3 linked regions of the Homo sapiens genome follow. The protein of the gene in region 1 interacts with the protein of each later gene in a pairwise test. Each region holds a gene or a part of one and is shown in the gene's direction. Other genes may lie near its edges.

Region 1 (3,750 bases):
CAGTGAGCCAAGATTGCACCACTGCATTTCAGCCTGGTGACAGAGTGAAGCTCTGTCTCAAAAAAAAAAAAAAAAAAAGAATTAGCTGGGCACAGTGGCATGTCTGTAGTCCCAGCTACTTGGGAGGCTAAGCAGGAGGATTGCTTGAGCCCTGGAGTTTGAGGCTGCAGTGATCTATGATAGCACTACTGCACTCCAGCCTGGGTGATGGAGTGAGACCCTATCTCAAATAAAATAATAATTATAATAAAGACTGCCAGGCACATGGTGGCATGCACATGTGGTCCCAGCTATTTGGGAGGCTGAGGTGGGAGGATCACCAGAGCCCAGGGAGGTTGAGGCTGCAGTGAACTGTGATTGCACCACTGCACTCCAGCGGGGCAATGGGAGTGAGAATCTGTCTCAAAAGTAATAATTATATATATATATATTTATATATATATATATATATATATATATATATATATATATATATATGTTCTAGTATTTTCCTCCCATACCTCCAATGTATAATATCTCATGCACCCTGTGGTCCACCCCCCAAAGACATACACACAACACTTTAGAGTCTCTGATGTAGTCAAAGGGAGTCATTGGAGGTTCTGGAACAGATGACAGGCATGGTAGCAGTTGATTCACAAACTGAAAGCTGAGACATCAAAGAACTGCGACTGCCTTGGAATGTTTCCCATGTGCTAGCCACCGCCTCAGTGCTTTATACATAAATCAGTTAATCCCTATAGCAAGCCTCCATTGTGAATACCATAATTATCTTAACAGACGAGGAGACTGAGGCACAATGAAGTTAAGAAACTTTCCTAGAGTCACACGAAATTGGTGGGGGCCTACTTTTTTTTTTTTTTTTTTTTTTTTTTTTTTTTTTTTTTGAGACTGAATCTAGCTCTGTCGCCAGGCTGGAGTCCAGTGGCGCGATCTCACCTCACTGCAACCTCCGCCTCCCGGATTCAAGCGATTCTCCTGCCTCGGCCTCCCCCCACTAGCTGGGATTACAGGCACTCGCTGCCACACCCAGCTAATTTTTGTATTTTTAGTAGAGACAGGGTTTCACCATATTGGCCAGGATGGTCTCGATCTCCTGAGCTTGTGATCCGCCCACCTCGGCCTCCCATAGTGCTGGGATTACAGGCCTGAGCCACTGCGCCCGGCTGGGGGCCTACATTTGACCCCACGTGGTGGTTTGGGCTCATAGTCCATGTGCTTAACCACTAGTGGGTAGGCAGGGAGCCAGTGTTCTTTCTCTCCTGTGACTTTGGTGAAGTCTCTCACCACTCAGTGTTGTCGTGAGCATGCTAGGCAGAGTGCAAGAAAGGAGCAAGAACTCACTAATGGCTAGGCCTTCCCTGTGTCTCTGTAATTGATGGGTTTGGGTTTTTTTTCCTTTCTCTCTCTCTACCTCCTCTCTCTCTTCTTCATCCTCTCTCTCTCACTCTCCCCCTGAGATAAGGTCTTGCTCTGTTGCCAGGGCTGGAATGCAATGGAATGGTGTGATCATGGCTCACTACAGCCTCAATCTCCTGGGCTCAAGGGATCCTCCCACCTCAACCTCCTGAGTAGCTGGAACCACAGGCATGCACCACCTCGCCCGGCTAATTTTTTATTTTTTGTAGAGAGGGGAGTTTCGCCATGTTGCCCAGGCTGTTTTCGAACTCCTGGGCTGAAGTGATCTTCCTCCCTCAGCCTTCCAAGGTGCTGGGATTGCAGACGTCAGCCACCGTACCAGGCCAACGGGCTCGGTTTCTATGGTTTTGTGGGGAGACGGCTGAGGGAAGGTCGGCTTCCGGCGTCGCGCTGCAAACGTCTCGCTGAGGTCATCCTTTACGGCAGGCGTCCGCGTCGCTAGCTAGTCGTTCTGAAGCGGCGGCCAGAGAAGAGTCAAGGGCACGAGCATCGGGTAGGTAGGGGCTGCTTATGTCCGCGCGGCAGCTTAGCTTAAGGACCTTCCTTCCGAGGTCTCTTTAACAGATTTCCTCTTGGCTTGCTGTGTGTCCCCTTCTCCCAGACCTGAACTCAGGGCGTGTTCCCTGCCCTCCCAGGCCGCTTCACCTCCACAGCTAATGGCACCGAAGCCTGGAGATTGCCGCTCTCTCCACTTTCCACATTTGTTTAGGTTTTTGCCGGACTAATGTTTTGGCTTTCTGTTTCTTAACCTAAAGTCTACGATCCTTATCCCAGCTTTCCAGGCTCTGCGTGATTTCGGCCCCGCCGGCCTCCTGAGCTCATTTCATTCTTTTCACCGTCATGCACGCTGCGCTCCATTGTCCCCCAAACATAGCCAGCACTTCCGGCTGTAACTCCGGGCTGTTGCCCAACTGGAACACTCTGCCCACTGATCTTCACTTGGCGAACTCGCAAGCCATGTTAAAGGCATTTTCAAGTCTCCGGGCAGAGTTCGTGCTTCCTCCTTCGAGCTCTTACCCACTCGTGTTCCTTGCAGTGTATTCGCAATTCCGAGTGTGTGTCTCTGGTGCTTACGTTGGAGCTGCTTTCCCCCGCATCTGAGTGCCTGGAACGTAACTACTCAGTAAATGATGACTGAGGGATGGGAAGGAACTTAAGAAGTTAAATTCACCTTTTTGTTGAGATGGAGTTTCGCTCTTGTTGCCCAGGCTGGAGTGCAGAGTGGCGCGATCTCGGCTCACTGCAGCCTCTGCCTCCCGGATTCAAGCGATTCTCCTCCCTGAGACTCCCGAGTAGCTGGGATTACAGGCATGCGCCCCCACGCCCGGCTAATTTTGTATTTTTTTAGTAGAGAGAGGGTTTCGCCATGTTGGTCAGGCTGGTCTTGAACTCGCGGCCTCAGGTGATCCGCCCGCCTCGGCCTCCCAAGGTGCTGGAATTACAGGCGTGAGCCACTGCGCCCAACTAAATTCACCTTTAAATCTACCATGAGTACACATTTATATTGATATTTGTGGGTGTGCGCGCGCTTCCTTTCAGTCATTTTAGGCAGTCAGGGTTTGTTTTTGTGTGTGTGTTTTTACATTTAACATTATTATGTATTTGCATGTAAATTTTTTTCCCTACTGTCTGTAATAGTCTACAAAGTAAGTCTTAACCCATTTCTTTCGCTCTGGTTTTTTTTTTTTTTTGAGACAGGATCTCGCTTTGTTGCCCAGGATGGAGTGCAGTGGCCAGGTCATAGCTCACTGAAGCCTTGAACTCCTGGCCTCAGTCTCCTGCCTCAGCCTTAGGAGTAGCTGGGACTACAGGCGCACATACCACCACAAGTGCCTTTTTTTTTTTTTTTTTTTTTTTTTGAGACAGAGAACCTGACCAAAGGATCCAAATTCTTTTTTTCTTCTTCTTCTTTTTTTTTTTTTTTTTTTTTTGAGACAGAGTCTCGCTCTGTCGCCCAGGCTGGAGTACAATGGCGGATCTTGGCTTATTGCAACCTCTGTCTCCCCAGTTCAAGCAGTTCTCCTGTCTCAGCCTCCCGAATAGTTGGGATTACAGGCATGTGCCAACACGCCCAGCTAATTTTTTTGTATTTTTAGTAGAGACGGGATTTCACCATATTGGCCAGGCTGGTCTTGAACTCCTGACCTCAGGTAATCCACCCGCCTTGGCCTCCCAAAGTTCTGGGATTACAGGCATGAGCCACCGCGCCTGGCCCACAAGTGGCTGATTTAAAAAAAAAATTTAGGCCAGGTGCAGTGGCTCACACCTGTAATCCCAGCACTTTGGGAGGCCAAGGCGGGCGGATCACCTGAGGTCAGGAGTTCAAGACCA
Region 2 (3,750 bases), on another chromosome or scaffold:
TGGTTATTGAGCATTTATATGTGCCAGGCACTGTGCTAGTTGCTTGGCATACAGCAGTGGACAAAATAGACAAAAATCTCTGCCTTCCTGGTGAGGCAGCCTCTTGAGTCAAGCCATTAATAACTAACTATGCTGTTGCCCAGCTAACATTTCTATTAAATAACTGTTACCTCTCCTACCGTGGGATAAAGAGATAACATGTTTTTTTAACTTCAATAAGGGGAAATGCTCAGGATATGCAGCCATCCTTCTGTATCCCTGGGGGATTTGTTCTAGGACTCCCCTCCCACACCAAAATCTTGAGCATATCAAGGATGTTCAAGTCCCTTTTACAAAATGGCATAGTATTTGCATATAACTTATGCAAATCCTCCTGTACGGTACTTCAAATCATCCCTAGATTATTTATAATACCTAAAGCAATGTAAATGCTATGTAAATTGTTGCTATACTTTGCTGTTTTTATCTGTATTATTTTAAATTTTTATATATTTTTTGAATATTTTTAATCTGTAGTTGGTCATATCTGTGGATCCAAAACCCTCAGATATGGAGGGCCAACTTTTTTTTTTTTTTTTTGAGATGGAGTCTCACTCTCTTGTCCAGGATGGAGTGCAGTGGCATGATCTCAGTTCACTGCAACCTCTGCCCCCCGGGTTCAAGCAGTTCTCCTTCAGCACCCCAAATAACTGGGATTACAGGTGCCTGCCACCACGCCTGGCTAATTTTTTTTTTTTTGTATTTTTAGTAGAGACGGGTTTCATCATGACGGCCAGGCTGGTCTTGAACTCCTGATCTCAAGTGATCCACCCACCTCGGCCTCCCAAAGTGCTGGGATTATGGGATTATGGGCGTGAGCCACAGCCCCAGCCATCAACTATAATCTTAAATTTTAAAAGCCCAATACAAGAGATATCTATATCTATATCTATCTATCTATCTATCTATCTATCTATCTATCTATCTATCTATAATATGTTAACATATTTGTGCACAGAAAAAGGGTAGAGAGGAAGGAGCCCCTAAATATCAGCAGGGGTGTAAATCACTAGGGGTATATGACATACATGTGCATAGAAAAAGGACAAGGAATAACCCCTAAATATCAGTAGGGGAGATTGTATTTTCTAGGAGGGCCACAAGATCCCCTGTCCCCTGTGCTCTTCATACAGTATGACCATGATGGAGAGGTGTGATCTAAGTTCCCTCTCCATGCATTTGTGACTATGGAGGCAATACAACTTCTGCCTGGTCCTCCTGGGATGCTCACGTTGGAAACTCAGACACTGGTGTGAGAAAGCACATGGAAACGCCACACATGGGTGAACTGGCGCTAACCCTGCTGACCTCAACTGACAACCAGCATCAATCACCAGACACATGAGTGAGGAAGCTCCTCTGTGACCTCTGACTGAGACCCTGTGAGAGACCCCAAGCATGAACAGCCTAGCTTAGCCTAGCCAACGACCAGGATCAGAAATTAAAAATGAATGTTGTTGTTTAAAACAACAGAGTTTGAGGGTGATTTGTTATATAGCAATAGCTATCCAGGAAAAAAGTATTTAACTTCTGTATGGTGAGATCATGGATATTAATAATACTTTTCCATATTTTCCAATATTTCTATAATGACCATTTATTTCTCTTATAATCAGTAACAAAAGAAGGGAAAACTTGGTCTAAACACGAATTTAGGGACTTAAACTAGACTTGGAGAAAAGCTTTCTATGCAAGATTTATTAGATACTGGAAAGGATGAGGAAGACAAATTTAAGTCAATATGATGGAAAGAGTGGTGGATTTGGAATGAGGAAACTTAGAAATGAATCTGTTTTCTGGGTGACCTTGCGCAAGCCTTTGCTAAAATTTGGTTTTCTATTTTGAAAAACGCAGCTGGCTGTTTAAGGAAGATAATATCCACCAGGGCGCCTGGCCCAGAAAAGGCGCTCTGTAAGTGGTAGGTGGATCCTGTCTAATCAACGCCAATTATAACCAGGCATCTGCAAGCTTTGTGGAGGGCGCATCTTTCACTGCTACCAGAGCCTACAGTTCTAATAATGAAAATTGCCTGGAAAAGAACCACAACTCTTAAAAAAAAAAAAAAAGTCCAAAATCACAAAGTGGCTTTTGCAGCGGTCCTTGCCTGTGACGCCGGGCCATGGCTGGAGCTCCTTGCTCCGTACCTCTCAGGAGCCTCCATCCTGTACCAATGGCCAGAGAGCCGGGGGGTGACAGACAGGGGGGCCGGCAGCCGAGCCAGGCAGGACGCTGCGCGCCGCGTTACTGGAGCCGGTGTCCCGGCAACCCCGGAACGCGCCTCTGTGGGAGAAGCAGGCGGCTGCGGTGTCCCTTTTGCCCTAGGCTCTCGGTTCTCAGGCCTCGGCGTGCGGCGTGCGTTCGGCAGTTCAGTTGCCAGTTGGTTCGTTGGTCCGTGGAGGCCTCTGAGCACAGACCCGGGCCTCCCCTGGGGAAGGGGGTGGGAAGACCCCGAGGTGGAAAAGAAGGAGCACCTTGAGCTGGATGGGGGCTGCAGCGAGCCTGGTTCGGGCTGGGGGCGGACTCGCTGGGGCTCCCAGGGCTTCCAAACCACGAAACGCCCAGGTGGAGGGAGTAAGGCTCCCGTTTAGAGGCCAGTCCTGCCCTCCTGACTTTCGGTGGCTTGTGGAATTTGTTTGTTTTGACTGATACCTTTCTTACGAGGGACTTTCTTTGTCTCTGGGTTGCTTCTAATATTTAAAATCATCATGGGCACAGATGAGTCCATCCATGCTCACTGGAAACAGTCCACGGGGCTGCCGTCTCCCCTCCATCTCAAGCACGACCTGCGGCAGACAGCTGGAGAAGGTTCCAGAAAAAAGGGACTCTGGCATGACCGAGGTGGAGAGGACCTACAGTTGAGTTCTAAGAAATCCAGGCTGTGGAGTTGGTGGCCACATCCAAGTATACTACACCCGGGGGCGGGGGCAGGTGGGGGGCACCATTTGAAGTTTAGAAGGAAGCTAGTTTGGGGGCATGTAAAAAGAGCTGCTTGAATAGTAGCTTATGTTTGTGCTAACCCAAGATTTGATTAGGCAGAGAGCACCACCAAAGCAGAGAGTCTCATAAATTACCTCACTGGATCTCACAGCAGTGGAGAAGTATATTACCTATGAGTAAAGGGAGCCAGAGATTTGACCTGCCCAGTGCTTGGGTTAATAAAAGGTGAGCCTGGGATTTGACATGAGCCTGGGATTTGACATGAGTCTGCCATACTTTCGAGCCTGTGTCCTTTCATCTTTCCTTTGCTCAGATATTAGTAGGTTTGTGTCATTGTTTATTGGATGGGACAGTTCAGGTGAGAATTATGAACACTCTAAAAATTAAATAATGGCTGGTAGCTCCATAATTGGTTAAGGCCGAGGAGGGTATTTGGGGGCACGTTTGCCTTTGGAGAACAGTGTCATGGCGCTGAACAGCCACAGTCTCCCAGAAAAGCTCAGAGTGCGCCTGCGCTCAAGTTCTCATTTACCTGTTATGGGTGAGTGGCCTGAGTGCTGCAAAAAGGGGTTGTGAAATATCCAGACTTTGCGGGATCAGATCTTAGCTTTCTCCCTGGTCTTCTGTATTCTGGGTGTGTGATCTCCTCATTCTCCTTCACAGTGGGGAGAAAGGAGGGAGGTACAACTCATTCCACCCAGCTATTAATATAAGCTAGGACCGTAGAGAAGGAGGAGCTGGAGGAGTTAGAGCTATTAATTGTCCAAGTGTGTC
Region 3 (3,750 bases), on another chromosome or scaffold:
TTCACTTAATATTTCAACTATTGTCTTTCATATAATCTTTTTTTTTTTTTGAGACGGAGTCTCACTCTGTTACCCGCGCTGGAGTGAAGTGGCACGATCTCAGCTCACTGCAACCTCCGCCTCCCAGGTTCAAGTGATTCTCCCGCCTCAGCCTCCTGAGTAGCTGGGATTACAGACACGCACCACCACGCCCGGCTAATTTTTATATTTTTAGTAGAGACAGAGTTTTGCCATGTTGGCCAGGCTAGTCTAGAACTCCTGACCTCAGGCGATCCGTCTGCCTTGGCCTCCCAAAGTGCTGGGATTATAGGTGTGAGCCACTGTGCCCAGCCAGTCATTTTTTAAAACTACAAAATATATCTCAAGTGACTATTCTATAACTTACTGAACCATTTCTTATCATTAGCATGTAGGTTATTTTCAGTTTGAAGGTGTGATCGAGAGTCCAAAGCAATTCATCTGTTAGCATAAAGATTCCCAAATTTTCTCAATTCATGCACCCCTAGTGTCTCTGTAAAATTATAACAGCACCCCAGGCCAAAAGTTTCATTTAGTAAGTAGTTAAGTCCAAACCGCTTAATAAGTATTTATATCCTAACAATTTAGAAGCCATTGAAAAAATAATACATATGTATCTTTTTTTTTTTTTGAGATGGAATTTCACTCTTGTTGCCCAGGCTGGAGTACAATGGCATGATCTCAGCTCACTACAACCTCCGCCTCCTGGGTTCAAGTGATTCTCCTGCCTCAGCCTCCTGAGTAGCTGGGATTACAGGCATGCACAACCACAAAATACTAATTTTGTATTTTTTTAGTAGAGACAGGGTTTCTCCATGTTGGTCAGGCTGGTCTCAGACTCCCAACCTCAGGTGATCTGCCCACCTCAGCTTCCCAAAGTACTGGGATTACAGGTGTGAACCACCGTGCCTAGCCAATAATACATATATATCTAAAGAAAATAACATTTTTACATCATTCCCGAATAAGCACAATTGCTAATGGGGTGTATGCACCCATTGGGCTTTGCATACCTTCTCAAGCCTTGGAATCAGATTGGACACCACCTCTTTTGTTTTCTATTCCATATTGATTTTCACATGGCACTTACTTTCTTTTTTTTTTTTTTTTTTTTTGTGATGGCGTCTCGCTCTGTCACCCAGGTTGGAGTGCAGTAGCCAATCCAGCTCACTGCAAGCTCCACCTGTGGGATTCACGCCATTCTCCTGCCTCAGCTTCCTGAATAGCTGCAACTGCAGGCGCCCGCCACCACACCTGGCTAATTTTTTGTATTTTTAGTAGAGATGGGGTTTCACCGTGTTAGCCAGGATGGTCTCGATCTCTTGACCTCGTGATCCGCCCACCTCGGCCTCCCAAAGATCTGGGATTACAGGCATGAGCCACTGTGCCCGGCCTTTTTTTTTTTTTTGAGACGGAGTCTTGCTCTGTCACCCAGGCTGGAGTGCAGTGGCGCGATCTCGACTCACTGCAAGCTCTGCCTCCCAGGTTCATGCCATTCTCCTGCCTTAGCCTCCCAAGTAGCTGGGACTACAGGCATCCACCACCACACCCAGCTAATTTTTTTGTATTTTTAGTAGAGATGGGGTTTCACCATGTTAGCCAGGATGGTCTCGATCTCCTGACCTCATGATCCACCCGCCTCGGCCTCCCAAAGTTCTGGGATTACAGGCGTGAGCCACCGGGCCTGGCCCATGGCACTTACTTTCTGTTGCAGCAGCTGCTGAAAACCTAGCTTTGCAAAGACAAAGTCATTGATGGGACCCTGGGTACAGTGGCTTACGCCTATAATCTCAGCACTTGGGCAGGCCAAGGTGGGTGGATTGCTTGAGGTCAGGAGTTCCAGACCATTCTGGCCAACATGGCAAAACTTTGTCTCTACTAAAAATACAAAAATTAGCCCAGCGTGATGGTGCATACCTGTAATCCCAGCTACTCAGGAGGTTGGGATTAGAGGAGGCATGAGAATCACTTGAGCTTGGGAGGTGGAGGTTATAGTGAGTCGAGATCACACCACACCACACTCCACCCTGGGCAACAGAGTGAGACCTTGTCTCAAAAGAAAAAAAAAGAAGAAAGTTATTGATGGGAGTGTAGTGAAATTTGTGAACTCACTCCAGCTAACAGTTGACATGGTGCTCAACTTAGATGGAGTATTCCCACGCTTCCCTCGAAATACCCAAATACTCCACAGTGCCCCTGCAAATCACTATGACACGCTGGGGTACCTTGGTACCCAGTTTGGGAACCATGTCTTAGTTTTAGTGTTTTTCTTTTTTTTCTTTCTACTAAATGGTTTATTTATGATAAATGTCTACGTTTAGGATTATTTGGCTTAGAAGTCTGACCACATTGTGTGGCTCTTGATAAAATTATTTTTTTCTTTGGTTTTTTTGTCCCTTTCTCCTCTTCCTTCTCCATCTTTCCTCCCTCTGTTGCTTCCTCCTTTTCATATCTTTCAGCGTCTACTGTGTGCCCAGCACTGCTCTCAGTCATTCTGTTTATAGGAGAGGGGTGGAAGGACTTCACCTTTTCATTTTTATTTTTATTTTTTTTTGAGACGGAGTTTCGCTCTTGTTGCCCAGGCTGGAGTGCAGTGGTGCAATCTCGGCTCACCACAAGCTCCGCCTCCTGGGTTCAAGCGATTCTTCTGCCTCAGCCTCCTGAGTAGCTGGGATTACAGGCATGCGCCACCACACCCGACTAGTTTTGTATTTTTAGTAGAGACAGGGTTTCTCCATGTTAGTCAGGCTGGTCTCAAACTCCCGACCTCAGGTGATCCACCTGCCTCGGCCTCCCAAGGTGCTGGGATTACAGCCATGAGCCACCATGCCCGGCCGACCTCACCTTTTTATGGCACATCCTGTGAACCAGCATTATCCCATTCAATCCGCACAGTAACTTGGTGAGGTGGCTGCTGTTCCAATCCCCATTTTACAGATGAGGAAACTAAGGTCCAGAGGTAGAGGCCTTCTCCAGGGCCTCTGCTTCCTGAGTCAATCTGTGATGGAGATGCCCCCAGAGAAGCCTCCAGGGGCTGGAATTGTACCCTAAGACTGGACACAGAAGGAGGCTCATGAGATTTTTCTTTCTGCTCTTTCAGAAATGGCTGAGCGACACAACACCAAGCAAGTCCTGAAGCTGGCGCGGGACCTCGTGTACAAGGTGCAGACTCTGATTGAGAACAAGTGAGGGGCACCTCACCCCGGCAGCCTCAGCCAAGCTGCCCCTGCCCCGCTCCTCTGCTTACTTTTCCTCCTGGCTGGATGGGCACCCCGGGAGCGGGGTCCTGGTGTCTGTTCACAAGCGTGGAGTTCAGTGCGCAAAGAAACTACCCTGACTTTTACTTCTGGGCAGATGGGGTGGAGGGAGTACCCCTTCAATTCAGCCTTACATTTTCCTGTTTGACCAAAGATTGCCCAAGTCTGGCGTTCCTCCCTTGCAGGAGGTGGAGGTTGTTGGTGGAGGAGGAGCCATCTTTGTTTGCTGGTGCCCGGAATGGTCTCCTCTTCTTCTTTCCCTATCCCTCCAAACTGTCTTGTAAGATGAGACCTGGGGAGGAAACTTCTTTTTGGAAATTGGTGTAGAAGAGGTGTGTGGGGCTACCTCTATGCTCCTCTGCAAGGGGCCTTTGGCGATGTTCTGGACATGGCTGAAGATTGACTTAGAGATTGACCCTCCACCTCGACATTACTGACATTTGGGGCCAGGTGATTCTTTTTGAGGGGACTGTCC

Evidence for each region.
Region 2: the proteins of NDUFS5 (region 1) and SPATS1 interact in binary tests that used the Homo sapiens proteins (3 or more experiments, as listed by UniProt).
Region 3: the proteins of NDUFS5 (region 1) and SGSM1 interact in binary tests that used the Homo sapiens proteins (3 or more experiments, as listed by UniProt).

The regions. Positions count from the first base shown.
Region 1 is NC_000001.11:39,024,487-39,028,236, forward strand, and holds the start of NDUFS5 (NADH dehydrogenase [ubiquinone] iron-sulfur protein 5), read left to right. Parts: upstream 1-1,863; 5' UTR 1,864-1,916; intron 1,917-3,750. UniProt on the Homo sapiens protein: Accessory subunit of the mitochondrial membrane respiratory chain NADH dehydrogenase (Complex I), that is believed not to be involved in catalysis. Complex I functions in the transfer of electrons from NADH to the respiratory chain.
Region 2 is NC_000006.12:44,340,342-44,344,091, forward strand, and holds the start of SPATS1 (spermatogenesis-associated serine-rich protein 1), read left to right. Parts: upstream 1-2,308; 5' UTR 2,309-2,427; intron 2,428-2,754; coding exon 2,755-2,893; intron 2,894-3,750.
Region 3 is NC_000022.11:24,921,068-24,924,817, forward strand, and holds part of SGSM1 (small G protein signaling modulator 1), read left to right. Parts: intron 1-3,118; coding exon 3,119-3,207; 3' UTR 3,208-3,750. UniProt on the Homo sapiens protein: Interacts with numerous Rab family members, functioning as Rab effector for some, and as GTPase activator for others. Promotes GTP hydrolysis by RAB34 and RAB36.